Linked DNA regions of Homo sapiens: region 1 is linked to region 2. A link means that fine-mapping ties the variant in region 2 to the expression of a gene that starts in the linked region. Tissue or cell type: whole blood. Region 2 holds a variant in brackets; the other region holds the start of a gene. All regions are shown on one strand. Distances are from middle to middle.

The links. PIP is the estimated chance that this variant, and not a neighbour inherited with it, causes the effect.
Region 1: RALA starts here. The variant in region 2 is fine-mapped to the expression of RALA in whole blood (INTERVAL, PIP 0.92).

Annotation. Positions count from the first base shown.
Region 1 is chr7:39,615,606-39,632,055 of GRCh38, forward strand. It overlaps RALA (RAS like proto-oncogene A), which reads left to right and starts at 7,967. Exons shown (of 5, transcript NM_005402.4): 1 at 7,967-8,220. It overlaps LOC107986785 (a long non-coding RNA gene), which reads right to left and starts at 7,872. Exons shown (of 2, transcript XR_001745175.2): 1 at 6,828-7,872; 2 at 2,456-6,009. RefSeq lists an enhancer at 7,843-8,690 and silencers at 8,017-8,526, 9,121-9,170.
Region 2 is chr7:39,653,834-39,670,283 of GRCh38, forward strand. All of the region lies in intron 1 of RALA (RAS like proto-oncogene A), which reads left to right. Among named protein-coding and RNA genes, the nearest start is that of RALA, 38 kb to the left of the region's middle. The variant T/A (reference allele first, on the strand shown) is at 6,204.

The DNA of each region.
Region 1 (16,450 bases), 38 kb before region 2:
TAGCAAACTGTACATGTAGCATGAGCAAGCAATAAGCTTTTGTGATGGTAAGCCACTGAGATTTTGAAGTTTTCTGCTACTGCAATATAACCTAGCTTATCTTGATTAACACACAGGGCACTTTCCTTCATAATATTTTCCCATGATTCATCTTAAAAGAATCAATATTGAGCCAATCAATATGGGGGTGATAACAGTACATGAAACAGAGTTCTTGCCCTCCTAGTAAGAAAGACAAACAAGCCATTCCAGATCATCCTAAGATTAATGGAAGTATTAAAGTAGTTTAGGCAGAGAAGTTGTATTTGCCTCCCAGATCATGATGGCTGCACAGTGAAGACTGCGTTTAGAGCAGGAAAAGTCTGAACCCATTGAATCTATACTACAATAATAGTAAGGAGGTAATAATGGCTTGGATTAGGGACGTGGTGATAGAAGCAGAGTGAAATGAATGATTTTGAGATATAATGAGGAGGAAGATTTAGCATATCCTGGTAAATGAGTGGATGTGTAAGAAGTAGAGAGAAAATTCAAAGCAAATATTTAGATTTCTGGCTTTGATCATTTGGCTATCATCAGTCAGTTTGGACATGCCTAGTTCGAGCTGGGTACCTACAAAACACTCAAAGAGATATCAGATAGGGAATTAAATATATAGGTTTCAAGCTTAGGAGTGAGCTCACAGCTAGAAGTCACCAATATACAGAAAGTAAAGCCATGGGTGTATAAAACCATGGGTGTAGATGAGATCATCCAAAAAGAATGTGGAGACTAGACTACATTGATAAGAGCCTTACAATTCCTTGGAGTGGCAATATTTAAGCAAAGACAGAGCATGCAAAGGACAATGAAACAGTTAGGCATGGTATCACAGAAGCCAAGAGAAAAGATTGTTTCAGAAAGGAAAAAATGGTCAATAGCTTCAAATACTATTGAAACATTAACAACTAAGATATATCTCATAATAGGAATGATGTTGGTAAGTTTATCAAGAGTAGTTTCACAGCAGTATTGGGGGTAAAAGTCTAATATATGGTTGAGGGTAACTTGGAGGTGAGGAATTGGTGATAAGCAAGCATAGACAATTTTCTCAAAAATTCTCCTTAGGGGAAAGGATAATTTGAGCAGAAGCTAGAAGGAGGATATGCATGAAGAAGACACTTTAACAAATGAGAATGCTAATGGCAAGAAACCAGTAAAGAGTGAGAGGCTGAAGACACAACAGAAAGAGAATAATTGATGGACCAAGGTCCCAACTAGACAGGAGTAGCCAAGACCTAGAATACGCATTGAATGATGGCCTCTATTGTAAAAAGAATGGAGGAAGGAATGAGTATAGTTCAAAACTTGTTAATTTGATTATAAGTAGTAACTAACACACACTCATGTTATTATTAATTGAATTCTTATAATAAAGTATATAAGTGTAGAAATATAGAGTAATATAAATATCCTGTTTACTATTACTATTTTCTCTGACTCTCAAGACTCAAACTACCTAGATTCATGGGACCTAGCCAGCCATTTCTTGTTTTGGTAAGTGCCTTATACAATGTCTGAAATACTGCAAATATTTCACAAGTGGTAATTTAACCCCATTTCCTTGGCTGACTCTGGATTCAAATAGTTAGGAGCTTCATCACTGATGATATCTGATTCTTTTTCTAGCTTCTCCATTAGTCTGATCTACTCTACCTGCCATATACCTCCTGAGGTTATAAATATCTTCTGTTCTGGTCTATCACTACTTCTACCTTTTTCCAGGATAAATCAATTCATTTATAATACAATAATTGGTTTTTTTTTTTTTTTTTTTTTTTTTTTTTTTTTTTTTTTTTTTTTTTGAGATGGAGTCTCGCTTTGTTGCCCAGGCTGGAGAGCAGTGGCGCGATCACGGCTCACTGCGAGCTCCGCCTCCCGGGTTCACGCCATTCTCCTGCCTCAGCCTCCCAAAGTGCTGGGATTACAGGAGCCACTAGAAATTGATGCTGGGTATAGGGTAATCCCTCAAAAATAATATAACTTATAAAACTGAATAAAAACAAAAATGGATGTCAATTTTCATAGTGACAGGGACTGACCAAAGGCATATTTTCACAGACTTTGTCCAAATGTATCAAAGAGCATTTTAAAGTATTAAATTGGGTTCTTCCCTTACTAGTAATGAAAATGCATAATTTTATTTATAATTAACAAGTGTAAAAAGTTGTTCAAGATTGAAAAACTGAAAAACTTGCAGAGAAATAAGGGAATAAAATAGAGCCACGTATATCTATTACCTCGTTAAGGGGAAATATTTCATCTGGAAGATCAATCCAAACAATAACTTCTAAAAACTAAATGCTTAATTACATACCAATAAGAATCAATTTTGGAGCTAGTTCAGTGATAGGAAGACAATGTAAAATACCTTATCTTATATGCTAAATTAGATAATATAAAAATACTACACAGCTATACATCCACAATTTTATTTAATAAGTATATCATTAACATTTTCTTAATATATCAGAAAAGATGAAAAGAAACAATATAGAAATATTTTCAGCTATACAAATTCAGGGCTTCCATGACAAATAAAGGCTAAAGATTCCACCTTTATTTACATACATTTTTTTCTTCATAGAAAAAGTCGATATCCAATAAAATGTTACCTAATGTAACCCCAGGCAAAGTGAATGCCATGACTGGACAATGGAGACTTATTCGTTGAACCGTTACACCTAATTACCATGTGCCAGATACTGTTCTAAGCACTCTATGGATGTTAGCTCATTTAATCTTAAAACCATGTCATAGAATATGGTAAAAAATAAAAATGAAAAAACTAAAATTGCTACTTTTCTCCCCACCTCTTCATCCTACCCCATCATATATTGTCAGTAAATGGACAGCAGGAGTCCAATGAAAATATATTTAACTTGGACTCAAAAGATTTGAGTTAGTTTCTGGCTCTATTTAGGGTTCTGTGTGACCTTGAACAAGTTATTGAAACCAGAACTTCCCAAACCTGACTGATCATTGGAATTCAAGGGAGAGTGTTATTACAGTTACAGATGCCTTGGACTTCACCCAGTATTTTCTAATCCTAAATCTAAATATTTTCTGTTTAGAGTGGGACTTGAGAATCTGAATTGCCTTTGAAACTACACAGGTGATTGTGATAAGCAGTCACATTTGGGAACCACTGATAGAGTAGTCTTATCCTCTAATCCCTTGACAGAAAAGTATAGAAATATGTGGTCCACAAGGGTCGTCGGCATGAAGGGGAGAATTATGAAGACCCAAACTCTCATAACCCCACTCTTTACACATTCTCATTAAAGCTGTGTTTAGATATTCTAGATGACCCTTTTGTTGTGGGTCATCCGGACTATCTAAGCCCAACAAACATATCCAGAGGCATATCATACAGGTGACTGTCATCTGCATCACCTACTTAAGCCTATCTCTCCAAGGCATGACGTCATTAAAAATGAAGTGGGAAATTGAGGCAATGGTTCCACCAATTTAAAGTACAAACCCAAATAAACTATCTTCACATGAATGTGCTGAAAATGTGTACGACCTCCTAAAAAAGTTTCTGAGGTGATTGTATCAGCTTTTTTCCCGCTAATTCAACTAAACATCACAATATACATTTTACTCATCCCCAAAATATTTTCTGAGTACTTATTTTGGGCACCATGAAGGATACAAAAATGAATAAAACAATGTACCTGTCTTCAAGCTGGTAAAGATACAGCCATAAACATAAGAATTGTAGTTTTCAGTTTTAAAAACGTTAAGTTTGGCTGAATTTTGGAGATGCTGCAGGCAATCAATAATAAGCCAGAAATGTCCATATTATAAATACATTCTGGACTGTCATATCAAGCTGGTGACCCTGGTATAAAGTACTAAAAGAAACAATATATTTTGAGAATCTCAAAATGTGTGTTTGGGTATGTTACTTGACAACTGTAGTGAATTTTTAAGTCTTTAAAAACTAGTCTCAGAGCGCTAGTCTTTCAGCACTCTGAGCCTATTTCTTTCAACAATTTGTATCTCACAAAATTGTGAAAACAAAATGAAATAGTACAAATGTCAAGGTGTCACGGAATTTTTTTTCTTTTTTGAGACAGGGTTTCATTTTGTTGCCCAGGCTGCAGTACAGTGTAATGATCACAGGCACTGTAGCCTCGACCTCCTGGGTTCAAGGGATCCACCTCAGCCTACTGAGTAACTGGGACCACAGGTGAATGCCACTATGCCTGCCTAGTGTTGTTTTTTTTTAATTTTTTTTTTTAATAGAGATGAGGGCTCCCTATGCTGTCCAAGCTAGTCTTTAACTCCTGTATTCAAGCGATCCACATGCCTCGGCCTCCCAAAATGCTGGGATTACAGGTGTGAGCCACCACACCAAGTCATGGTGTCATGAATCTTATAGATAATGCTCATAACTCTAATAAATAATAAAACATGATTTTGAGTTGATTTTTCACCAGTGGTGACAAATGGCTATTAACCAATTACTTTCTTATCTGGCCCTAAAACACAAAGAAGCCTTGTTTGTCATTGCTGTTCCCAGATGTATAGTTAATATACATTATATGATAATTTTATAAATTGGTATATAAGCAAGTGTATAAAAATAAACATGCACATTATGTAGTCATGAATACATTTAAATGTTTACATTATGCATACACCTCTCTAAAGGAAATACTGAAGTCACCAATTTAATGGAAAAAATTCTCATCTACTTTAGGGATAGACATTGGACAAAACTTCACAAGTCTATATATTTCATTACATGTTTGTGATTAAACAGTGATGAGAATGACAGAGTTTCACAGGAATGTTCAACTTAATTGTGTCAAACATGTAACTGTCTATAAATTCTATAGGGACTGCATTATTCTATGGGGACATGAATAATGTTTTTAATACAAAATTCCAGTTAACTGACTGGAGTAGACTAATCATTAATTCTAAAACATGCTTCTGGCAAATCCCTATCTACCCTGTATTTTCCCCCAAAGCATATATTAGCTATGAGTAGCATGAATATAAAAGTTGTGGTTACCAAAACTTCTTTTTACTTCCCTCTTTCATTAACTATATTTGTTAATACACAAGGTTTGATCATAAATAGTAAAGTCAATTCACAAGTTAAGAAAAAAGATCTAAGTGTATTTCAAAACAGGATCCTTCATGTTCTTTGAGTAATCCAGGCAGCAAAGTCAGGAATGCTCATGGGTGCTACTGGATATTAGTGCTAATTACTAATAATATGTACTTACAATTATGCCCTTTCATCCAAGTACCTCAAAGAGCTTTCATAGCATTAATTTGTTATTTCCTATAATATCTTTGAGAGGCGGCTGATAGAAAGTTATTATTATCTCTATTTTACAGTCAGAGAAACTAGGGCATAGAGAGGTTAAGTAACATTGCTAGGGTCATACGGTGAACAACTGACAAAAAAGGGACTCAAGCTAATTATTCTCATTTCCTGTTCAGTATATTATCCATTATATGGTTGTTCAATACACCTAAATGCTTTTTTATCCTAGACAAATTGAGAATACTGTATTTAAATAATCTAAGACGTAAGTGAACGCGTTTCTCTTTTTTTGTGTGTTCAAAAATGCTGCTCTACAGGGATATAGAGTTAAAAACTAATAATTAGTCTTTGGTTTGCAGCTGTAGCTATTATTTATAGGGCTTTTACTATTTGTGGTTTTCTGAAGCTCTGCTCAAAATGAAGTATTCTATTTCTCACTGCTTTATGCTAGGTTAGCATAGCTGTGAGCCACCAAAAAGCAGCTGAGACAGGCTGACTAATGAATTTGAGGTTGTCTTTCATTGCGTTCCTATTGCTGACTCTTCTTGAAGTCATCCTCCTTCTAGCTCTCCATTCAGCAGATATTTGTGCAACCCACCATCCTCAATCCTCAGCCTATGGCCAGCTTAACTGTTGTCAATGATTAAATTTAAAATATTTTTATTGGAATGGAGCAATTCCTACAGAATAAAAAAGAAAAAAATTAAAATATTAAAATATAAACATAGATAATATTTCATTTTATGAGTTAATGATGCTATACTATTAATAGTTACCACTGTTACATCCAGTTTCTGCTAAACCTGACCTTTAGGGTCCTTAGAAGACCATTAAACATTAGAATATTGGTCTATGGATGGACACATATCACCATATTGGGTTTTTTAATGCAGTATTTCAGTAATTTTCCCAAGTAAAGGCAGGGAGAAAGGAGAAGTGGTTTTGAAACTGTGCTCAATGACGTAAGACTGCAGTCAGCTTGGTTATGGTCATCTAAACCTGTGGTGTTTCCAACTTCAGCCCAGCTCCTCCCTAGAGCTCTAGACCCATATAGCAACCACCATTAGACAGCACCACTCTTACTTCACTCATCAACTCCAAAACTGAACTCATTTTTTTTCTGCAAAAATGTCCCCTCCCAGGACTCATCCTAACTCTTCCTTATCTTATTTAGTAAAATACACCCTTATCCTGCCCCTCCCTCAAAGCAAAACAAGGCATCATCATTGCCTCTTCCATTCTCCTATCTGGCAGCTGCCCCTAGCAACCAATTACCAGTTGATATGGCCTCTTGAATATTTTAGGAATCCATCTCCTTTGGATGCTCACTACCATTCACACAGGGTCCTTAAGTTTTCTCTTACTGGCTTCTGCAATGGCCCCCTTGTGGGCTCTCTGCTTATCCTTCTCTGCCCCCCCACCTCCACCCCCCCAAGTTATCTGTTCTCTACCAACAGAAGAATAGCTTAAATTGTAATCTGTCCACTCATTGCCTCACCAAGGCATAGACGATTCGTGATTTGGCTCCTGTTTTCTTCTCCAGCCTCATCTTCTTCAGCAACCTAAGTTTGAACTTCAAGACCTGTAATTATTACTCATTCTTCTCAACAAATTATTTGTCCCCGTGCTGCATCTCCTTTCTGTTCGGATCCGGATTTGCCATCCCACCCCTATTTTTGTAGTAGAAAATGCCTATTTATCTTTAAAACTCTAACCTACGTTAGTAAAGCTATCCATTCTTCACGCTGTACATCTTGATAAACCATACTTCCAATAGCAATGATTTGCTTTCATGTATGTCTGCCCACTAGACTGGACATTCCTTGAATGGCTCATACCAGGAATATAGTTGGTACTCAATTTGTGGGGAGCAAAGAGAGATAAGCGAATAAATGTCAAGACATAAGAATCTGTAGCTGCTAACTTAAATTTACGGATTTAGTGAAACTACTTCTCACAAGCTACCAAATCACAGTGCCATGGGGCCGCAAGATGATCTCAGTGCCACACCGACACCTGCAGAGTCGCAGGGGGGTCCGACACCCCTCAGAAAGAACTCGCAGACCGTCCGAGAAAGCGAATTCTCCAGGGGATCAGCAGTTAGATGAGGCCCAGGGCAGCCACGAGACCCTCCAGCCAGGGTAGGCGGCTGACCCGCCTCCTGGGATTTGGCCCGTGACAAGCCACGTCGCCAGCTCCGCTCTGAATACCCCCGGCCACGCCACACGAGCGGCCTCAACCCTGAGACGCCCAGGGAACATGAGCTGACCCTCTAGAAGCAAGATGGCGGCCTCCGCTCTCCCCTCCTTCCCCCAAGAACCCCCTCCTGGTCCCCAAAAGAAAGACAAGGACACCGCGGCAACGACGCCGAGATCCGGGAACCTCCGCGAGGCCCGCGGCCACTCCCGAGCCCCCGGGAGATGACTTCACCTCGCGGAGCTCAGAGAGCCGGGGGTGGGGCCGTCGGAAAGACAGCGCGGACAGCCCTCAGCTTGCAGGGGGCGGAGGCCGGGCAGCCTGCGCCCTCCGAGCCACTGTTCTGCGGCCCAGGCCCATGATCACCCTCCTCTCAGCCCACGGACAGGAAGTCGCTCCCCAGCTGCCCCGCCCCGCTCCCCAGCGCCCCGGAAGTGATCTGTGGCGGCTGCTGCAGAGCCGCCAGGAGGAGGGTGGATCTCCCCAGAGCAAAGCGTCGGAGTCCTCCTCCTCCTTCTCCTCCTCCTCCTCCTCCTCCTCCAGCCGCCCAGGCTCCCCCGCCACCCGTCAGACTCCTCCTTCGACCGCTCCCGGCGCGGGGCCTTCCAGGCGACAAGGACCGAGTACCCTCCGGCCGGAGCCACGCAGCCGCGGCTTCCGGAGCCCTCGGGGCGGCGGACTGGCTCGCGGTGCAGGTGAGCGATGCCCGCTCGGGCCGCCCGGGGAGGGACTGGGGCCACCCGGGCGGCGGCGGGGGTGTGTCCGGGCGGCGGCGGGCCGAGGCCCTGACGCGGGTTCGGGCTGCCGAGATTGCACATCCCACGTTCTGCCCGGGGACGAGCTGCGAGATGAGCCCGGCTGGAATCCGGGGCACCGCGTTCGCCGCTGTGGGGCGAGTGAGCCCCCGAGAGTGAGCGGCTGCGGAGAGGTCCCCTGCGCCCGGCAGCCGGTCTCAGTTGGCCTCGTCCGAAGGTCACCCCGCACCTTTCGTCCACGGCGCCCAAGTTCCCGCCCGGGCGGTGCCCGCGACCTGGGGCAACCCGCTGCCGCCGCAGTCCCCGCGCCTCACTCCACCCCTCTCCCCTCCTTCCCTTTCTTTCCACTCCTTGCCTGTGCTAGAGCCGCTGCTTTTTAAGCATCTCCGCCAGGGTTTTTTGTTTGTTTGTTTTGTTTGTTTGTGTTTTTTTTTTTTTTTGCCAGTTAAAGGAATGGTTTTTCAGACTTAAAGTCATTAGACTCTCCGCACTGAACTGAATACCTGGCCTTGGGCGCTTGCACAGCTTTAGCCCATTTTCAGGTAATCTAGCTTCTAATATGAGGAAGAGAATACATTTTGGGAGAGAGGTGTTTCCTCTGTGGTTCGTTTCTGAAAGATTTCCAGAAGTGGAAGATGTGATTGGCATGCTTTAGCCTGGATATATGTGTTTAAGTAGACGGGGGTGACGGCACACAGGGGTGGCAGTGTTGTTTCAGGATTTAGGGAGAATTAGGGAGTTAACTGGCCTGTGCTCGGAAACCTGAATGTCCAGACTTGTAAGAGCTCATCCAAGTGTGGCTGAGGTAGTGTGAGAAGTCCCGTGCCACGCCCTACGTGTCAAGCTGAAAAGCACCTAATTTACAAATTGTGTGGTGTGGGGGGGGAACAACCTTTATAAAACATGTATCATAAGTTAATTCTTTTCCAGAAAGTAAATTGCAACTTTAATCATATTCCAGAAATTGGATAACAGATTTCATTGGTAAACTCTTACAGTATGTTTATTAATGTATTTCAGTGTGTCTTATTAGCTCATGTTTTTCTGTCTCTGGTAATACAATATTATTCTAAACCGACTCCTGTATTAAAATAATACACTATTATTGTGAAGTATTATCTGACAACACCGTTTTTTGACCTTGGATTTCTTTAGGGCAGGAGCCATGTCCTACTTATGACTGTTTCTATGCAGTATGCCTTGAACATAGAAGCTGTTCACACATTTCTGCACTGAATGAATGAGTGTATAGGTTATCTCACAGTCACCATCCAGGAGTTGCTTATTTTTGTTGGGCTAGGCTGTTTGTTTTGTTTTAGGTTCTTGCCACTTACAGACTTTACTTCGTGTTTCATTCTTCAGCAGTCAGAGTTCTTTGCCTTCCAAAACTATCCTCCTCTGAAAGGTTAAAATTATATTAAAATTGTGCTGGGCATTATAACTTGTATTCTAGTGTTAAATGCTTACTACTTGAGCATATTCAGAGTTAGTAGGAAGAGACTGCCTGGTGATACACATCAAGTTTATGTTTGGGGTTGATAACTGTACCCTATCTTAATGAAAAAGAGGAAATTAGGAGTTACCATTGTTTGGATAACGTGGTGCTTCCCAGAATGCTTATAGTGGTTCATTCTTCCCATGAATACACGCAATCCTCTGAAATCCTGATGTGACCTTGGCATGATTTACCAATAGCCTCTTTTACATTTATTTTCCAAGATCCAGATGCTGTTCTCTAGTGTGTTTGCTGAGTGTGCAATAATATGGATCATTTATTTTGAAGCAGTACTTCATTACAACACTTTCTTCACAGGGCTTTCCAAAGGAAGAAAGGGCTAATTATAGAAAAGAATCTTGTCTACCATTTGTGAGGGAATATTTTTGTCTGTAGATGGTTGGATTATTTTCACATTAGGGAGGTTCAAATAAGAAGAAAGTGCTGACGTTTTCTCTCCTCTCCAAGTATGTGGTGGTGGTCCTGCACTGTTTTTCCAAGCTTAGCTTCTACAGAACATAAATACATGTACCAGTGTCAATTCTTGTAGATATGCATATCAGTGTAATATGCATTTGTATTCTTTAGTAGATGAGTGGCAAGGACAATTACTTTTAAAATACTGGAATAAGAGGCTGTGAATGTTAATGAGGAAAAAGACTATGATTTTGAAGGAGACAGTTTATGATTTTCATTGTTTTATAAAATATTTTAACTCTTAGACACTAAGGAGAGGGAAGCCAGCAATTTCTTACCTCAGTGACATTACCACTATACAGAGGTTAGATTTTCCTTCTTTAATTCAGCAACCCTCTTGGTAATAAGAGTTCTCATGTGTTGATTGCCTGCCGAGCACTGTGATAAGAGCTTTACTTAAATTATTTCTAATCTCCACAACACTTCTGCAAGACAGGTAGTTTTCCCATACTTTATTAAGGTAAATTGAAGTTATTTGCCAGAGGCTAGGCACCTAGCTTGTGTTTAGTAGAGCCTAGATTTGAAAGTAACAATTGCTGAGAGCACTGAGTATTATTGCAGTTAATCCTAAATGGCTGTGGAAAAGGCAGTTCTGACTGAGCTGGAACTGGAGCTTCAGGAAGGTGAAGATACTGATTCCTCTCTCTTGGACATCAAGTGTGGCCTGGGGTTGCCAGCAGTCCTGGCCAGGTGGCCTCAAGCAGCAGCCATTCTTCTCTTTTATCTTCAGCGTGCCTACAAATACAGTGTTATCACCGTCCATGTGTGCCATGATGGAAAAATGGTTGGGCATTTTTCCCGTGGGTGTCCCGGTAAAGTATTTGGACTCAATTCTGGTGTTTGATTAGTGCTTTTTAAAGTAACAGAATCGTCCCTATTTGAGAGGAATACCATAAATCTATTTGTAGTGACCTTTCCTTGAAATCACATTTTTTTTAGTTCGTTCTTTCACTAATGGAAATGGGGGAGAAGCTATGGGGGACAGTAGAAAGAATGGTAAAAGAAGCAGAGATGTGCTTGGTCTGTTTTTAACCGTTTGAGACCATTAATCATTTTCTCTGGGTTTAAGATGGAGGCTTAAAAGTGGCAGAAGTCTTGTAAGGGTTTAGCTGCTATTCAGTGCTGGTAGAATTCTCTTCCCTCCTAAGCCTGTGCACTTTTTAAAATGCACTTTTAAATAGGCTTAATTTGAAGAATGTGTCCATCTCTCTCTCTCTCTCTTTTTTTTTTTTAAAAGATGTACCCTTAAGTAAAAAACAGCTGATTGTCTGGCCCCCATAAGTAACAGTTATTCTGTTTTTTCTTTAAGACATCTTTCTTATTACCTTATCGCATTCATAAGGATTTGGGTTGCCGTATAGAAAAAAAGAAATTAAAGTTCTATGGGTTTCTAAAATATGTATGAGTAAATTTTAGGTGAGAATTTGCATCTTTGATTTAATTATACGTGAAGGTGATGACTTAGTTTCTGAAAGTCAAGAGGGTAGTCTTTACAAGCCAAAAAAGGCATGCTTCCATAAAATTATACTATTCTTAAAGGCCTTCACAGCTAGGGTCCTATATTAGATGCAATAGATGTAACACTGACATACATAGTCTCCTTAAAGTCTGGGATCCAATTTTATTGCTGAATTTACTTTTGAAACTAAATGTCAGGGTTTGGTAATGTTATTTTGGACAATAAGACATAGTTAGATTATAAAATGGCGTATACTCCCAGATTTATTGGGAAGGTGGGCAAAGATCCCCCAGTTTCCAAAAGTTATGATTATGGTCATCTAAGCCACAGGATCTGTTTTCTTATGTAGTTGAGAAGCTAACATAGTACTCCATTAAAAGTGGAGGTTGCCACACTGCGTGACCAAACACTGAGTTCAGCTGCCCTGTCTAGATATTCTGGATTACTACAGCAGCCTTCTAGCCTATGGTTGGAACCCATCTGATACTTTTCCCATTCTTGCTTAGAACAATGGTGATATTTCTCTGCTTAAAATCCTCTTGTGGCTCTTTTTTGCCCATTAATAAAATTCAAACTCCATTTATCCTTAATCTCATATACAAAACCTTCAAGATGTGCTCCTTACCTAACTCTCTTTTTTCCCCTTTATCTTTCATATTTTTCATTTTTTTTCTTACCTAACCCTTTAGCCTTATCTCTCTTCTTGGATGATCTTTTGTTCTACCAATACCCAGCTTCTGGAATGCTAGTGTTTGTTTACTCAGTCCTCCATTTCCTCTTCCTGGAATTCTAGCCTCTCTTCCTTCCCCTAATCTAGTATACTCCTACTGGTCCTTCAGAACTCAGTTTAGGTTATAATTCTCCAAAAAATTACAATTAGGTTCTCTCTCTGGATCCCATCCCTCAAAAAACAAAAAACAAAAAACCTTTAAGACTGGGCTGATTGCTTCTCTTATGTGCTGTCATAATATCTGTTACAGCTCTTAACTACACTGGAGAGAGTACTTTCATTAGCCTATTGTAAATTTTGTTGACAGCAGTCCACAGTAACCTCATAACTACACACACACACACACACACACACACACACACACACATTCTTTCTCTCTCTTAAAGGCCTTCTTCGTAGGCCTTTATCAGTCAAGTGCCCAAACTTTCTCAATTCATGGCACCCTTATTATCGCAGTAATTTTTTTCACAGCATCCCTAGGTCAAAAGAAACACCTAACAGTTTAATTTTTTTGTTTTTTGTTTTTTGAGACGGAGTCTCGCTCTTTCACCCGTGCTGGAGTGCAGTGGCGCGATTTCGGCTCACTGCCGCCTCCACCTCCCAGGTTCAAGCAATTCTCCTGCCTCAGCCTCCCGAGTAGCTGGGATTACAGGCACGCGGCACCATGCCTGGCTAATTTTTTGTATTTTTAGTAGAGACGGGGTTTCACCATGCTGGCCAGGCTGGTCTCGAACTCCTGACCTCGTGAGCCATGTGCCTCAGCCTCCCAAAGTGCTGGGATTACAGGCGTCAGCAACCATGCCTGGCCAGTTTAATTTATTAAGTAATTAGGTCTGAACAACTTAATAAGTATGTATCTCCTAACAAGTCAGTAGCTGTGTGAAAAGATAAAATACATAAACTAAAATCAGTAACTTTCATTCTTAACTGCTATCGTGTATGTACCATAGTTTTCTCGACTAATGTCCTGTTTGAACATTTAAGTAATATCTAATATTTTGCAATTACAAATGATGTTACAGTGAAAAACTTTGTGTACATGTATCTTTGTATTGTTGGAGAGATACATCTTCAGGATAAATGCATATGTAGAGTTGTTAGGTACTGTCAAACTCCTCATCCTGTGGGGTTATACTATTTTGCATTCCTACCAGCAGTGTATGAGAGTAGAGTGCTTATTTCCTCACAGCCTCACCAGCAGTGTTTTGTCAGCTTTTGAATTTGTGCTGATCTAATAGGTAAGAAATTGTATCTCAGTGTATTTTCCATTTGTACTTCTATTACAAGTGAATTGAACATGTTTTCATATGTTTAAGGGTCATTTTAATATTTATTTTTATTGTTCATATTATTTGCTCACTTTCTTTTCTTTTCTTTTTCCTTTTTGAGATGGAGTTTCGCTCTGTCGCCCAGGCTGGAGTGCAGTGGCACGATCTCTGCTCACTGCAACCTCTGCCTCCCAGGTTCAAGCGATTCTCCTGCCTCAGCCTCCTGAGTAGCTGGGATTACAGGTGCACGCCACCACGCCTAGCACGTTTTTGTATGTGTGTATGTATTTATTTATTTATTTTGAGATGGGGTCTCACTCTGCCAGGCTGGAGTACAGTGGCGCCATCTCAGCTCACTGCAACCTCTGCCTCCTAGGTTCAAGCGATTTTCCTGCCTCAGCCTCCCGAGTAGCTGGGACTACAGGCGCGTGCCACCACGCCTGGCTAATTTTTTGTACTTTTAGTAGAGATGGGGTTTCACCGTGTTAGCCAGGATGGTCTCGATCTCCTGACCTCGTGATCCACCTGCCTCGGCCTCCAAAAGTGTTGGGATTACAGGCATGAGCCACCGTGCCTGACCCTAATTTTGTATTTTTAGTAGAGATGGGGTTTCACCATGTTGGTCAGGCTGGTCTCAAACTCCTGACCTCGTGATCCGTCCACCTCAGCCTCCCCAAGTGCTAGGATTACAGGCGTGAGCCACCATGCCGAGCTTTCTTTTACTTTTTTTCTTTTTTTTGAGACAGAGTCTTGCTGGACCCTCCAGGCTGGAGTGCAGCGGTGCAATGGTGCGATCACAGCTCACTGCAGCCTCAGCCTCCAAGACTCAAGTGATCTTCCCACCTCAGCCTCCTGAGTAGCTGGAATTATAGGTGCATGCCACCATGCCTTGCTAATTTTTTTTTTTTTTTTTTTTTTGTCAAGATGGGGTTTTAACATGTTGCCCAGACTGGTCTTAAACTCCTGGGCTCAAGCAGTCTGCCCACTTCAGCTTCCCACAGTGCTGGAATTACAGGCATGAGCTATCGTGCCCGACCAATTTGCCCATTTTCTATACGACTTTCAGTCTTTTTTCCTCTCAGCTTTGAAAAGTTCTCTCTATTTAAGAATATTAACCGTTTAATTTTGACATATGTTGCAGATATTTTTGCTAGTCGTCTTTTGGCATTGCTTGTGGTGATTTTTTGCCATGCAAAAGATTGTTTTTATATAGTCAAATATATAAATTTTAAATTTACTGCATCTGAAGTTTTAGTCATATTCAGGAAACTTCTTACCTTCAGGTTATAGAGAAATTCACACATGCTTTCTTCTGGTACTCATATAGTTTCATTTCTCACATTTAGTTCCATTCAGAGTTTATTTCTATGTATGATATAAGGAATGCATCTAATTTTATCCTTTTCCAAGTGGCTATCCAGTTGCCCCAATGACATTTATTTAAAAAAGAAAAAAAAATTCTTGTTCCTTCTATATGCAGTTGGGTATATTTTTTTTCTATTGGATTATCTCACCATTCATGCACCAGTACCACATCATTTTAATCATAGAGGCTTTGTAGTATGTTTTAATGTTTGGTAGGGCTAGTCACCCATTATAGCGCTTCCTCTTCATTGTTTTTCTTGCCTTCTTGTATGAATTTTAGCATCAATTTGTCTAAGTCTATGAAACAATTCATTGCTGGTTTTTTGTTTTTGTTTTTTTTTTTTTTGAGACAGAGTTTCACTGTGTCACCCAGGCTGGAGTGCAGTGGTGCGATCTCAGCTCACTGTACCCTCTGCCTCCCAGGTTCAAGCGATTCTCCTGCCTCAGCCTCCCATGTAGCTGGAACCACAGGCGTGTGCCACCATGCCCAGCTTATTTTTTTATTTTTAGTAGAGACAGGGTTTCGCCATATTGGCCAGGCTGGTCTCAAACTCCTGGCCTCAAGTGATCCACCTGCCTCGGCCTTCCAAAGCACTGGGATTACAGGCGTGAGCCATGGTGCCCGGCCTCATTGCTGTTTTTATTGGGATCACATTGAACTTATACTAACTTATGAAGAACTGACATCTTTTTTTTGGAGAAAGGGTCTCCCTCTGTTGCCCAGGCTGGAGTGCAGTGGTGCCATCATAGCTCACTGCAGCCTTGAACTCCTGGGCTCAAGTGATCCTCCTGCCTCAGCCACCCAAGTAGATGATAGTACAGGTGTGTGCCACCATGCCCTGCTAGAGAATTGACATCTTGATGGTATTGAGACATCTTAACCTAAAACAAACAATGTCTTTTTATTTTTTGCATTCTACTTTTGTGTCTTTGAGGAATGGTTTATAGTTTTCTTCATACAAGTTTTCAACATTTCTTGCTTATTCCTAAGCTATTTTATCTTTTTTGTTGCTATTATAGTTTTCTTATCATTTATGTATTTTAACTGGTTATTGTCCATTTATACGAATATTGTTGATTTCTGCATATTTTCCTGCCACCTTGCCAAATTGTTACTAAGTTGACTATGTTAGCCTCTTTTGCATTGCTATGAAAGTATACCTGTGACTGGGTAATTCATAAAGGAAAGAGATTTGTTTGGCTTACGGTTCTGCAGGCTGTACTGGCATGACACCAACATCTGCTTGGCGAGTTGAGGCCTCAGGAAGTTTTTACTCATGGAAGAAGGCGAAGGGTGAGCAGGTGTGACACATGGCAAAAGAAGAGTGAGAGAGAGGAGGAGGTTCTGGGCTCTTTTAAACAACCAGCTCTCATGT
Region 2 (16,450 bases):
TTTGCCAATACTGATGAACTGTTCTCCAAAATCATTTTCTAGAGTTTAGGGTTTTTTTCCATCTGAATATGTACTAGTTATTTTCATGTACTGTGCTAGATGCTGAGATTACAGAACTGAGAAAGATAGCTCTCAGCTCCCAATAATTAATTTGATGAGTAGCACTGATAGAAGTTATATCCAGAATACTAGGGAACAATGAAACAAGCCCATTGAAGGCTGGAGAGCAATTGGAAGGCAGAGGACACTGCACAGGGGGTTCTATTTGAACAACTTTCTTTACCTTTATGTACACAGTCACATCACCCTATCAGTAAAAATGTTTTAATTGAAAACATTTTTATTGAATTGTATGAATCAAGAACATAATTGCTTCTTTCACCATTGAATAATATGTTATCAAATATGCATTAAATTGGTCGTCTTAGAAATGGCTAAAATATGTATTTATAGAATAAGAAGGTATTTGAATTTAATCAGCTCAGTCTCCAATCCTCTTTCTTTATCTGTTTGAATTCTTTGATGGGGCTTACAGACAGTTTATTCCAGTTTTTACAGTAATAAGTAATTGGAAAGATCTTGCTAGTGAGCCAAATCTGCCTCTTTTTGTCTTCTCCTCAGTAATTTTAGTTTTAAATTGTAAAAATTATCTCCCAGTCTGTGACTTATCCTTTCATTTTCTTAACCTTCAAAGACTGGAAGTTTTTTATTTTGATGCAGTCCAACTTATCAATTTCATAGATTTTGCATTTGACATTGTATCTAGGAAATCATCGAATGCCTAACCCAAGGTCACATGCCTAACTCTATGCTTTCTTCTAGAACTTTTGTGGCTTTAGGTTTTACATTTAGAAACAATCCATTTTGAGTTAATTTTTTTGTATATGGTGTATATGTGAATCTAAATTTTTGTTTGTTTGTTTGTTTGTTTGTTTGAGAGAGGATCTTGCTCTGTCACCAAGGCTGGAGTGCAGTGGTGTGATCATGGCTCACTGCAGACTCGCTTTCCCAGGCCCAAGCAGTTCTCCCACCTCAACCTCCCAAGCAGCTGGGGCTATAGGCGTGTGCCACACTATACCCAGCTAATTTAGTTTTTGTAGAGACTGTATCTCACTATGTTGCCCAGGCTGGTCTTGAACTCCTGAGCTCAAGCAATCCTCCTGCTTTGGCCTCCCAAAATGCTGGGATTATAGTCATGAGCCACCACGCCCAGCCTCTAAATTCTTTTTTTGCAATTGTATTTTTGCATCTAATTGTTCTAGCATCATTGTTTAAAAAGTGATTCTTTCTTTACTGAATTGCCTTTTGCACCTTTGTCAGCAGATGCTGAAAACTACAAACCACTCAAATGTCCATCAACAGGTGAATGAATAAACAAATTGTAAGATATCCATACCATGGAATACTACTCAGCAATAAAAGGGAATGAGCTATAGATACAAGCAACAGGGATAAATGTCAAAATTATGCTTACTGAAAGAAGCCAGATAAAAGAGTACATGTTGCATAATTCCTTTTATGTGAAACTGAAGAAAGTACTAACTAATCTATATTTACAGAAAGCAGATCAGTGTATGGAGGGGAGATGGAGGGAAAGGAAAGGGAGGGATTACAGTTGAACAGGCTTAAATATGTGCAGTTTGTCGTATGTTGTACCTCAATAAAGCTGCTCCAAATATAATTCTAAAATTTATATAGAATAACATAGTGGCTAGATAAGCTTTTGATAACCAAGGTTTTTCTTTTCCCATTTCTTAATTTTTTTTCATACTGTAACTCCAGTTTATTGTTCTTCTTAAAAAGGTATGTAGATCTGAATATAGCATTTGGAAAATAATTGATTGTTGTAAACTCACTTCAAGTATATCTTCTGTTTCTTTGAGTTATGTCATGCCAGTCCCTACAGAGTCTGTTAACCTTACTTGGTATCATTGTTTCACTTTGCTTATTATAATTTAACCCAAACTTCCCCAAATTTTCCACAATTATATTATTAATAGAAATTACAGAATACATCAGGATCAAGGCATATAAGGATTAAGGGGAGAGGAGTAAAAAAAGAAATGCGCAGGGGCAGAATTAAGGAATTTAGATTTTCACCTATGAGCAATGTGGAGTCTCTGAAGAATTTTAAGTAAGCTGAGTTAAACTAATTTCACTTTTTATTGTGATCAGCTGAACTTACATAAAAAGGCAGGCAGTATTTATCTAAGGGGATTTGCATCAGTCCCTTTGGTGTTTTAGTGAGTATATAGTTTTTTTGTAGTGGCAGAGTCAAAACCCCTATTCAGATATCTTAAATTTATTCCCAAGCCTTGTACATTATAGTTGCATCCTGTCAAGTGAACTGTAACTAGCAATTCAAAATTCAGAGTTACTTGAATGTTCTTGTTTCTGAGTATTTCTTGGGTTTATGAGATTGACAACTCTATTTAGGCCAGAGTATTTAGTCTACTGGAATTAAGCAAATACAGGTCCCATCTATTCATGTTTGCTATTTCTCAATTTAAAATCCTATAGCATGTAAGAGCATTAGCATTTTATTTGTCTTTCTTTCAATCCTTTAGAGTTAAGACTCACTAATTTGGGATTAGTTATGACTCTATGAGGCTACTACTGATTTTTGATAGGAACAAGAACCCAGGAAAGGAAAAAAAGGTAATTTATGAGCTGCAGCCAATTATCTGGCAACCAGAATGCCTTGTTGTTAAGAGTCTATTGTAACAAGTTTCTTTGTCTTCATACAGCACCTGTTACTGTGCAACAAGACCGTGTTTTTGAACACCTGGCATAACATGAAACTGTTAGGTTATATTGTGGCTAATCCTGAAGGAAGTTAGTTGAACTCTGGCTCATTTATTTAAACTCAGTCCTCCAGCATGACAGATTGGTGAATGTGGAAGTGGGTACCAGTTACTAAGTAAAACAAACATGCTCAGCCCATCTCTTGATCTGGACCCTGGATTTTGGGATAAAGTGAAGGGATGAGGGTAAGGGATGTTCACTTCAGAAGTCATTGGGGAGTTTCCAGTGATGTCACATCTGACTACCCTGGCATGGATATATAGAATCTCTTGGATCATACCATCCTGGCTCTGTTCCAGTTTTGTTTGTTTGTTTGTTTTTGTGTTTTTTTGTTTTGTTTTGTTTTTGAGACGGAGTCTTGCTCGGTCACCCAGGCTGGAGTGCAGTGGTGTGATCTCGGCTCACTACAACCTCCACCTCCCGGGTTTAAGCGATTCTCCCGTTCAGTCTCCCGGGTAGCTGGGATTACAGGCACCTGCCATCATGCTCAGGTAGTTTTTGTATTTTTGTAGTGACGGGGTTTCACCACGTTGGCCAGGCTGGTCTTGAACTGCTGACCTCAGGTGATCTGCCCACCTCGGCCTCCCAAGGTGCTGGGATTACAGGTATGAGCCACCACGCCCAGCCCAGTTCATTTTAACTCCACCACAACTCTCTGGAACTTCATGCCAGTGATGTAACTCTTATCGAACCCTTATTTCCTCATATAAAAAATGAAGGGTTTGGATTATTTTAAGGCTTCCTTCTGTGATTCTTCAATTTCATTATGTTTACTTTTAAAAATTGTTCAATGAAACTTCTAGGTAAACATAAAAGCAACTTGTTAAAAATTGTAAAATGGAAAGAAATAGACTAGTATACTGAAGGATATTGTATTGGAGACGGTCCCAGGAAAGCCCTACTTTCTGTGGGGTCTGGACCTTCTAAACATTATCTTTTTGGTCATTAACCTGTCCTCTATATTAATTGAGGCCTGTAAGCCTTAAGTGATAATGAAATGCAGCCAGACATGGTGGCTGACACCTGTAATCCCAGCACTTTGAAAGGCTGGGGCAGGAGGATTGCTTGAGCCCCGGAGTTAAAGATCAGCCTGGGCAACACAGCAAGAGCCTGTCTCCACAAAAAAAGAAAAAAAATGTTAATGAAATGCTACAATTCTGCTTCCAACCACTAGTTTGAATGTAGGTGCATGTGTTTAGTATTTCAATTTTAAATATGATTGTCTTTTAATGATAGTTTTAAAAGACTGGAGGTTTACTTGTGCATGGGCCTGATGCCCAGCCTGTGTGATACTAGTTCATTCCTGATGAGCCATGACTGTACCCACTAAGCCCCTTAAAGAGAGGGTACTCTTCCTCCTACTTCTCTTTCTTTGAGTTAAGAGTATTAATAGCACATGCATTCTAGTCCGTATTCTTGATGTTAAGACATGTTGGAAATGACTGAGGAGCGTTGTCCCTTTCTTGAGCACACAGACAGTTGCTAAATGCAGGGCTTGTCTTAAATTAATGTTCTCTGGTGTCTTCTATTACCATCTCACTCCATCATTAACCCCAGTGGTCTTCATCCTAGACATAACAGTGGTTTGCACTGTGGCATCCATGACTTTGCTCCTTTTTCTCCTTCAGCTGCCTCTCCAACCCTCTCACCTCCCCCTACAAAGTCTGGGTATATTTTTGCCCATTTCTTGCCTAGTGTTATCAATACTTCGAACAACTAGTATAAAGAACTTAGTGAAGAGCACTGGTGCAAAGTAGTATGTTCAGTCTGTTGGATATTTTTATCCCCTAGCCACTTTCTATTAGATAAACCATATGAAACTGCTGTTTTTGTATGTATATATATATATAATGTTTGCAGTTTTATATGGTTTCACTTTATAAATATACACAGTGATGATTTTTAACCAGAGATATGAACTACAGTTACCTAGGCAGTTTTTTACAAAATATATATATACACACACACTGTCTGCATCCTTGACCAGTGAATTAGGATCTTCATGGATGGTTCCAGAGTAAATGCATTTTTTAAAAACCTGATTCTGAGTCATACTCCTGGTTAAAAACACCTGTAAGCGAATCTTCCCTCTAGGCTATTTTTAGTTTTTTTATTTTAATTTTTTTTAGGGATGGAGTCTTACCACGTTGCCCAGGCTGGCCTCAAAATCCTGGGATCAAGCAATCCTCCCACCCTAGCCTCCTGAGTAGCTGGAACTACAGGCGTGCGCCACCGAGCCTGCCTCAAGCAGACTGCATACAGATGCATATGTTTTTGGTGTAATCAGTTGTCTGATATGAACTGAAACTTTTAAGTCTATGACTTCATAAATTGCTATTATTTAAAATTTTAAGATATGGACCGGGTGTGATGTCTCATACCTGTAATTCCTGCGCTTTGGGAGGCCGAGGCAGGCAGATCACTTGAGCCCAGGAGTTCCAGACCAGCCTGGGGCAAAATGGCAGAACCCCTCTAGAAAAAAACACAGCGAAAAAATTAGTCAGGTATGGTGGTGCTGCTGTGGTGGGGATGAAATGGTCTGAGGCAGGAGGATTGCTTGACCCCAGGAGGTCAAGGCTGCAGTGAGCTGAGATTGCATTGCACCACTACCCCTCAGCCTGGGCAAGTGAGAGAGACTCTGTCTCAAAAATAAAAAATAAATATGATCAAATCTTAAATTTAGATTTTTCAGTACTCTTAGGAAGAAAAATATAAGTGCTACAAGATGTTTTATGATTTTCAGGGAATTGTCAAGTCTTTTTTTTTTCCCCTAGTTTGTAACTTCACGTTATGTTTTGTATAACTTCAACTTAAGATTTTTTACTTTTCAGATACACTTTTATCTTTCATGAAAAGGAGTTAACAGTAGTGAGCAGGCTGTAGTTCGTTATTAACTTAATTATGACTCACAATGCAGCTTACCCTACATGATTCGTAATTTTATCGTAGCCAAGAGAAAATGGAGTTTCTTTGAACAGCATCTGTCTCCCTTCACTGCTGGTAATTTGTGTGTTATTATTAATCACTGTTTTTGGAATCTCTGGGTAAATAGGCACTAAATAAGCCCAAAAATATGAGCAAAAGTTGTCTGTTAATTCATTGGCCACTGCAGAAAGGAGTACTAAAGCCCAGAAAAGAGTTCTGAGCTTCCTTCTATCTCTCACTAGCGTGTTCTCTCTAATTTGCATTCCTTAAAAATGAGTTGCACTTGCTTTAGTGGCATGTATATTTTTTAAAAATACAGATAAGTTTAGTGTGGCTCCTGTATAAAAATGACTCTCAAAAAATAGTAATAAAAGGAACATGCTCTCCAAGGGAGCTATGTGCAGCTCTTGGCCCTTGGATGCCTGTGGCTGGGAGTCTGAATCTGTCTGCCCATGGCCCCCTCTTTAAAAAAA[T/A]TTTTTTTTTAATTAAAAACAATTTAAGGCCAGGCACAGTGGCTCACGACTGTAATCCCAGCACTTTGGGAGGCCCAGGCAGGCAGATCACAAGGTCAGGAGTTCAAGACCAGCCTGGCCAATATGGTGAAACCCCACCTCTACTTAAAAAGTACAAAAATTAGCCGGGTGTGGTGGTGTGCACCTGTAGTCCCAGCTAGTTGGGAGGCTGAGGCAAGAGAATTGCTTGAACCCAGGAGGCAGAGGTTGCAGTGAGCCAAGATCACACCACTGAACTCCAGCTGGGGCAACAGAGACTCCATCTCAAAAAAAAAAAAAAATTGTAAAATGACTCCCACTTGTGATCCATTTCTTTAGAAATACATAACACTTATAAGAGGCAGTCTCTAGTGCTTAACTCAGAAGAATTCTTATCAAGAAGGAATATTGAATTTTATCCAATGCTTATTTCTTTTCTGTCTCTCTTTTTTTAATGAATTTGCCTTCTCTGCATAACTTTTTCTTTTCACTTGCATTGATTATATTGATTTTCTTATTGGGCCCATTCATGTGATTGTATTTTTATGCTTACTATTAATCTAATATTGCATTTTTGGAATACAGTTGACCCTTGAACAACACAGGTTTGAACCACAATAGTTTACTTACGCAGATTTTTTCAATAAATATATTGGAAATTTTTTTACAGATTTACAACAATTTGAAAAAACTTGCAGGTGAGCTGTATAACCTAGAAATATTGAAAACAAGATAGGTATATCATGAATGCATTAAATATATGCAGATACTAGTTTATTATTTACTATCAGGTACACAAATCTTATAAAAAGTTAAAATTTATCAAAATACATGCATACTATATTAGTCTGTTTTCATGCTGCTGACATGAAAGACATACCCAAGAGTGAGTAATTTATAAAGAAAAAGAGGTTTAATGGACTCAAACTTTTCCTGTGGCTGGAGAGACCTCACAATCATGGCAGAAGGTGAAAGGCATGTCTTACATGGTGGCAGACAAGAGAATGAGAGAGCCGAGCTAAAAGGGAAACTCCTTATAAAACAATCAGATCTCATGAGACTTATTCACTACCAAAAGAATAGTATGGGGGAAACTGCCCCCATGATTCAGTTATCTCCCAGCGGGTCCCTACCACAATACCTGGGAATCATGGGAGCTACAATTCAAGTTGAGATTTGGGTGGGTACACAACCAAACCATGTCATTCTGCCCCTGGCCCCTCCCAAATCTCATGTCCTCACATTTCAAAACCAATCATGCCTTCCCAACAGTCCCTCAAAGTCTTAACTCATTTCAGCATTAACTCAAAAGTCCACAGTTCAGTCACATCTAGACAAGGCAAGTCCCTTCAGCCTGTGAGTCTGTAAAATCAAAAGCAAGTTAGTTACTTCCTGGATACAATGAGGGTGCAGGCATTGGGTAAATGCACCCATTCCAAATGGGAGAAATTGGCCAAAACAAAGGGGCCAAAGGCCCTATGCAAGTCCAAAATCCAGCAGGGTGGTCAAATCCAAAATGATCTCCTTTGACTCCATGTCTCACATCCAGGTCACTCTGATGCAAAAGGTGGGTTCCCATGGTCTTGGGCAGCTCTGCTTCTGTGGCTTTGCCAGGTACAGCCTCCCTTCTGGCTGCTTTCATGAACTGATGTTGAGTGTCTGTGGCTTTTCCAGACTCATGGTGCAAGCTGTCAGTGGATTTACCATTCTAGGGTCTGGAGGACAGTGGCCCTCTTCTCACAGCTCCACTAGACAGTGTCCCAGTGGGGACTTTGTTGGGGGGCTTCAACCCCACATTTCCCTTCTGCACTGCCTTAGCAGAAGTTCTCCATGAGGGCCCTGCCCCTGCCTGGACATCCAGGCGTTTCTATACATCCTCTGAAATTTAGGCAGAGGTTCCCAAACCTCAGTTCTTGACTTCTGTGCACTCACAGGCTCAACAACACGTGGAAGCAGCTGCCAAGGCTTGGGGCTTGCACCTTCTGAAACCACAACCCGACCTGTACCCTGGCCCCTTTTAGTCATAGCTGGAGTGGCTGGGAGGTAGGGCACCAAGTCCCTAGGCTACACACAGCATGGGTTGGGGGGCCCTTAGCCCAGCTTTTGAAACCATTTTTTCCTCCTATGCCTCAGGCCTGTGATGGGAGAGGCTGCCACAAAGGTCTCTGACATACCCTGGAGACATTTTCCCCATTGTCTTGGTGATTAACATTGGGCTCCGGAGACATTTTCCCCCGTTGTCTTGGTGATTAACATTTGGCTCCGCAGATTTCTGCAGACGGCTTGAATTACTCCTCAGAAAATTGGCTTTTTTTTCCTATTGCATTGTCAGGCTGCAAATTTGTCAAAGTTCTATGCTGTTTCCCTTTTAAAACTGAATGCTTTTAACAGCACCAAAGTCACCTTTTCAGTGCTTTGCTGCTTAGAAATTTCTTCCACCAGATGCCCTAAATCATCGCCCTCAAGTTTAGAGTTCCACAGATCTCTAGTTCAGGGGCAAAATTCTCAGTCTCTTTGCTAAAACATAGCAAGAGTCACCTTTACTCCAATTCCCAACAAGTTCCTCATCTCCCATCTGAGACCACCTCAGCCTGGATTTCATTGTCTATATATCATTATCAGCATTTGAGTCCAAGCCATTCAACAAGTCTGTAGGAAGTTCCAGACTTTCCCACATTTTCCTGTCTTCTTTGGAGCCCTCCAGACTGTTCCAATCTCTGCCCATTACCCAGTTCCAAAGTCGCTTCCACATTTTTGGGTATCTTTACGACAGCACCCCACTCTACCAGTACCAGTTTCCTGTATTGGTCTGTTTTCATGCTGCTGATAAAGACACATCCAAGACTGGGTAATTTATAAAGAAAAAGAGGTCTAACAGACTCACAGTTTCCTGTGGCTGGAAAGGCCTCACAATCATGGCAGAAGGTGAAAGGCACATCTTACATGGTGGCAGATGAGAGAGTGAGAGAGCCAAGCTAAGTGAGACTTATTCACTACCATAAGAATAGTGTGGGGGAAACTGCCCCCATGATTCAGTTGTCTCCCACTGAGTCCCTCCCACAACATGTAGGAATCATGGGAGCTACAATTCAAGATGAGATTGGGTGGGGACACAACCAAATCATATCACATACAAACACAACTATATGTGGTGCCATTTGCAGTCAAGAGAAATGTAAACCAATGTAAAGATTCAGTATTAAATTATAACTGCATAAAATTAAGTGTAGTGCATATGATACTACTGTAATAATTTTATAACTACCTCCTGTTGCTATTGTTGAGCTCAAATGTTGCAAATACCTACTTCAAATGCCATGTGACACTAATTATCTCTGTGTGAGCAGTTCATCTCTCCAGTAAATGTAGTGTTTGTACAACACTGTAAACTTTAAATAACACTGTGGGACCCATAAGAAATGTTACTAGTGATGCTGGAAGTGCTCCCAAGAAGCAGAGAAAAGTCAACATTACAAGAAACAAGTTTAATTGCCTGATATGTACCATAGATTGAGGTCTTCAGCTGTGATTGCCCATCATTTCAAGATGAATGAATCCAGAGTAAGGGACATTGTAAAAAAAAAAAAAAGAAAAAATATATGAAGCCTTCACTGCAGCTACAGCAGCAGGCACAAAAGCTTTGCATTTGTTGCAAAATACATTTTTATCAAATTGAAAATTCAGCTTTTATGAGGGTGCAGGGTTGCTGTAAGAAAGGCATACCTTTCCAATCTGTCCCTGGGTCTAACGAAAAAAAGCCATAGCTGTAGACTCCAATGTGATTCCAGAAAAAGCAGTGTCATTATATGACAACTTAAAGCAAAAGGAAGGTGAAGGATCTAAAGCTGGAGAATTTAATGCCAGCAAGGGATGGTTTGATAATTTTAGAAAGAGGTTTGGCTTTTTAAATGTCAAGATAACATGAGAAGCAGCTTCTGCCAACCAAGAGGCAGCAGGTGAATTCCCAGAAGCCATTAAGAAAAACATTGAGGAGAAAGGATATCTGCTTGAACAGATTTTTAATGCAGACAAAATTGCCCTTCTGGAAAAAATTTTAAAAGCCACAAGGAACTTCTGTTGGTAGGGAAGAAAAGCAAGCACCAGGATTTAAGGCAGGAAGGAATAGGCTAACTACTATTTTGTGCAAGTGCAGTCGGGTTTATGATCAGGGCTGCCCTTATCTGTAAAGCTGCTAATCCCCAAGTCTTGAAAGGAAGAGATAAACACCAGCTGCCAGTCTTTAGGTTGTTGTACAACAAGAAGGCATGGACAACAAGAACCCTTTTTCTGGATTGCTTTCATCAATGCTTTGTCCCTGAAGTCAGAAAGTACCTTGCCAGTAAAGGATTGGTTTTTAAAGTTCTTTTGATATTGGATAATGCCCCTGGCCACCCCAAACCCTATGAGGTCGAAACTGAAGGCACTGAAGTAGTCTACTTGCCACCAAACACTACGTCTCTGAATTCAGCTTCTAGATTGGGGGTTGTAAGGACCTGGAAGGCTCATTACACACAGCACTCTGTGGAAAGGATGTCAGTACTATGGAGGACCCCAATAGAGGAACATCATGAAAGCCTAGAAGGCTCACACCATTGAAGATACCATCATTGTTATAGAAAAAGCTGTGAAAGCCATTAAGCCCCAAACAATAAATTCCTGCTGGAGAAAACTGTGTCCGAATGTTGTGTATGACTTCACAAGATTTATGACATAGCCAGTCAAGGAAATCTTGAAAGAGTTGGTGGACGTGCCAAAAAAAAAAAATAGTGGGAGGGGGAACAAAAGTCTGCTTGATAGAGATCAATGCTTCTGAACTGGTGCCAGGTGATGAGAAAGGAGTCCTAGAAGAAGCAAACCCATAAAACAAAGTGATGTTAGATAATCTAGCAGAAGGGTTCTTATTATTCAAGACTGCTTTTGACTTCGTTTACAACATAGACTCTTCCGTGATACAAGCACTAAAACTAAAGCAAATGGTGGAAGAAGGATTGGTACCACATAGAAACATTTTTAGAAAAATGAAAAAGCAAAAAAGTCTAATTACAATGCATTTCTTTAGCTACAATGAGTGTGCCTGCTTTTTCTGCCTCCTTTCCACCTCCTCCACCTCTTTTTCCTCTGCTACCCCTGAGACAGCAGGACCAATCCTTCCTCTTCCTCCTCCTCTTCAGCCTACTCAACATGAAAATGATGAGAATGAAGACCTTTATGATGATCCACTTTCACTTAATGACTAGTAAGTGTATTTTTCCTTCCTTAAAATTTTCTTAACATTATCTTTTCTCTAGCTTACTTTATTGTCAGAATACAGTATATAATACATATAACATATGTGTTAATCAACTATTATGTTATTGGTAAGGCTTCCAGTCAAATAAGCATTTGTAGTTAAGTTTTGGGGGAGTCAAAAGTTGGATTTTCGACTGCACACAGTGGGGTTGGGGGAGTTGGTTCAGTACCCCAATCCCTGTGTTATCCAAGAGTCGACTGTATAACACACTATACAGTAATGGATTATTTGTGTGCTGAGAGGTAAATTTCAGGTGTTGGTATTTTATGGAATTTCTCTGTTCATAAATGAGACTGCAATGTAGTTTTTTTTTTTTTTGGTGTGATTATCGCTATTTTATACCACTGACCTTATAAAATGATTTGGGTAGCTTTTCTGTGCCACCCGTGAGAATTATCTTTTTATGTTTAAGAGAAATTGCCTCTAACCTTTGTGTAAGGTCATTCTTACTAGTTTCTTCCATAGTGGTGATAAAGTTTAGTTGGCAAACACTTAGGATGTGAATTTTTTTTTTTTAATCCTGGCTTCACATCAATAGTGTGTCCTAGGGCACATTTTTAAAGCTTGATATGGCTCAATTTTCTCACCTATAAAATGTGAATGATAGGTCTAAAGTTGTTTTGAGGGTTTCATGAGATAATTAAGTACGCAGTTGAAAAAGTGTCTGACACAGAATAAGCACTCAATAAATAGGAAGATATTTATTTTTCCCCAAGGTTTTTGTCCTATCCAGTTATTTGGATTTTTTAATCTCCCTTTTTTTTCTTTCTTTTTCCTGCTTTCCTTGGAATTTTTCTCTTAGCTTGCTGAACTTTGTGACTGGTTGACTACTTTGTTTAAGATAGTCCTAGAAGAGAGTAAAAATTCAAAAAAAATGTATACTGGGTGTCAGGGCCACAAAGGTGACATTTTCTGACTTTACTCTCTAAGTTATATATAATGAATATATGTTACTTTTATAGTCATGAAAAAACACTGAGGATAGGAGGAGCTCAAGTTCCACCTGTGCCTGTGTGTGTTGGAAGGTGATGAACTCAAATGGTAGGATTAGGCGTATTCAACAGCATTCAAGATCACCTGTGGAAGTGAGTCTGTGCTAAACAGATTTGTGATGGAGAATGTAACTGATAATAGTTGTCATTAAACATAGTTTCAGGTAATATATTTTATATTCAGTGCCAAAGGGATTCTTTAAATTTAAAAAGTGACATTCGCAATGCCTTACTTATACAGGAAGGATCTTAACAGTACATACTAAGAGGTTAACCTGACTGGATGGATGTGGGGTGCCACATATACAAGTCAGAATTTAAGAGATTACTACTTTATATTTTCTTTCTTTCTTCTTAGCTGCTCGCTGTTACTCCTTAAAAAGAATTGGCTATTCACCCGCAGTTCCACAAAGTAAGAATTCAGCAGGTGGTCTGTAAAAGAGCTGTAGTAAAGGTTAATTGGCACAAAGGGAATCTTTGTTGCTATAGAGTCAGTCTTTAGCTTTACATTCCTGGTTTGTAAAAATAATGTCAATGCTTAATTTTCAAGGCTTTGATCAATACATCTTCTTATAAATTTTGAGTTTTAGCCAGCTTGTCCCAATGCTGAAGAAAAAAAACATTTTTGGGGAAAAAAATCACTTCAATCCTTCTCTGTAGCAGTTCAGACCATTAGCTTTCCTTTCTCTTCTCTCCTATTTCTGCCTCACTCCCACTCTTTTTGATGCCAGGTCTTGCCCCATCTTAAACTTTTGTGTTTATTTATGATTCTTTGGTCATCCATATCAGAAAACTGATTTACTCTTGAAGTTGGTATTGAAAAATAGTATTCTTTAAAACTCAGGCTAATTTTAATTGAATGTCTTGGAATTTTTTTTATACTTTCTAAATTTGAAATATTTTGGGGTTCCAAATCAAGTCAACTCAGGATTTTAACTCAAGTTCATGGTAATGAAAGCCAGTAGACTAAATATATGTGTCTACCTCCTCTTATCCCCAACTCCCTGTGAAAAGACAGGAAAAAGAATTTACAGACAGAAATTTGTAATTCTGTAATAGCACTGAGAATGAGAACAGATGGAGTGACCATCAGCAAAGCAGAGACTTTCTAGGTTGTAGAAGACAGAAGACAGATGGTGCTGATTGATGAAGCAGGGCGAAGGAAGGGCTACCCAGCATTCCCGTGAGGGAGGCCTGTAGGGGGAATCTCTTCTTCCCCACTGAGTCCTGAAGAGACTTTAAGCAATGAGTCAATAGGAACAGAGGGCAGAAGAGATGATAGGACTTGCTATTAATTAAAGGAATATAAGTGAAAAGCTAGCTTGATATCCTGCCCACACAACCAGCCCATACAAAGATTGCAGCAACATCTGTTCCATGCTAATTTTGGAAATCTATTTCGAAAAACATTTCTTTTTGAACTCACAGCCTGGGAGGACTAGGAGTTCTAATGAACATGTTAACAACCCAGGGTAAACTCTATTCTTTTGATATTTGGAGAAGGAGCCAATCTGTCAACCTGTTTCTTGCCCATGAACCTAAAGTGAAACTTTAAATACCCAGTGAATTTAAAGTGTCTTCCTGATCTGTTGTGAGAAGCAGATCTACCCAACAACGGAGGAAACTTACTATAGTGGACTGGGAGAGCAAGATAAAAGAAAGTCTAGCCAATGGTGACATGAAATTACACAAAATGTGATACAAGATATTATTGCCAGATGAGTAAAGGATAAGAACTAGCAATTCACAAAATAAATACTACATAGAAAAAGTATCCACCCTCTTTAAGAAATCAGAGATATAATTAGAAATAACAATGAGATATTTTTCACAGTATACAAGTAGCAGGTTTTTTAAAAGAATACACAATGCCAGTAGGGATACTAGCAATACTAGCATAGTTACTGTGCTAAAGTACAGCACTTTAAGAAAGCATTTGGACAATGTGCATGATAAACCTTAAACAGTCAATTTATTAATTTTCCATTTCTTAGAGTCTATCTCATGGAAAGTACTTTAAATGTAGAAATAGGTGGTCATCCATTATAATTTTGAAGAATTCAAAACAGCTCTAATGTCTTATATTATGGTTTATGGTAAGTTAATTGCTTTGTGTCTACAGGATGATATATTACATAGCCATTAAAAATTACAGCTATGAAGTCAGTAAAACAACATAAGGCTGGGCGCAGTGACTCATGCCTGTAATCCCAGCACTTTGGGAGGCTGAGGTGGGTGGATCACCTGAGATCGGGAGTTGAGACCAGCTTGACCAACGTGGAGAAACCCCATCTCTACTAAAAATACAAAAATCAGCTGGGCATGGTGGCGCATGCCTGTAATCCCAGCTACTCGGGAAGCTGAGGCAGGAGATCACTTGAACCCAGGAGGTAGAGATTGTGGTGAGCCGAGATCGCACCATTGCACTCCAGCCTGAGCAACAAGAGCGAAATTCCATCTCAAAAAAAAAAAAAAAAGAAAAGAAAAGATAAAGTAAGGCCAGGCGCAGTGGCTCACGCCTGTAATTCTAGCACTTTAGGAGGCCAAGGCGGGCGGATCATGAGGTCAAGAGATCGAGACCATCCAGGCCGACATGGTGAAACCCCATCTCTACTAAAAATACAAAAATTAGCTGGGCATGGTGGCGGTTGCCTGTAGTCCCAGCTACTCAGGAGGCTGAGGCAGGAGAATCGCTTGAACCTGGGAGGCAGAGGTTGCAGTGAACCGAGATCGCACCACTGCACTCCGGCCTAGCGACAGAGCAAGATTCTGTCTGAATAAATAAATAAATAAAATAAAAATACAAGTGGGACGTAAGTAGTAAGGAATGCAAAAGGCAAAATGATGTATAAGAATTTAATACATCCTTTCCCTCCCCCTCTTGCTCCATCTCTGTACTTGATTTTAAGATCTTTGAAGTCAAGGATCTTGACTTGCTCACCTATGAACCTATCCCCCACCCTCTCCCAATGCCTAGCATAGTACCTGACTCAATAAATACATGTTGGTGCAGAATATAGTCATAGGAAAAAGAAAAAGGAAATCCAGAAGCATACCAAAAGATCAGAGAAGCAGCTATACAAAGAGAGCCAACTTACAGATGAAACATGTGTTAAAGAGTGGGATTTAACAGATGTCTTCATGTAAACCAGAGGCTATGCTTAGATTTTTCTTTTAAAATATTTCATTTGTGGGCCAGGCACGGTGGCTTATGCCTATAATATCAGCACTTTGGGAAGCCAAGGTGAGAAGTTCACTTGAGGCCAGGAGTTCAAGACCAGCCTGAGCAACATAGTGAGACCCTGTCTGTACAAAAAAAATAGAAAAAAATTAACCAGGCGTGCCTGTAGTCCCAACTACTCAGGAGGCTGAGGCAGGAGGATTGCTTGAGCCCAGGAGTTTAGGGCTGTAGTGAGGTATAATAGCACCACTGCACTCCAGCCTGGGTGATAGACCGAGACTCTGTCTCTTTAAAAAAAAAAAAAAAAAAGCCTGCTAGTAAACTTTCTGTCACTATTCTAATACATGGTTTGATGTAAGTCTTAATCAGTTAAGCAAGTGCCCTACTCATTTTTAAACTGGATCATTCAGGCATGGTTAATTCAGTTATTTTTTCTGGCTGCATTTTTTAAAATTAACAAAGCTCTCATGGACAATATCAAGTTCATAAATATATCAATAACAGAAACTCAAACTACCAGGCTATATATATGCTTAATTTGTAGTAGCTCATACATAGAACCTAAAGCAGATATAAATTACTTAAATTATACTTTTAAAGATTAGATCTATTAAACATCTAAGCCTGCATTATTATTATTTTTGTAGAGACAGGGTCTTGCTGTATTGCCTAGGCCAAAGTACAGTTGTGCAATCTTAGCTCATTGCAGCCTCAAATTCCTGAGCTTAAGTGATCTTCTCACCTGAGCCTCCTGAGTAGCTAGGAC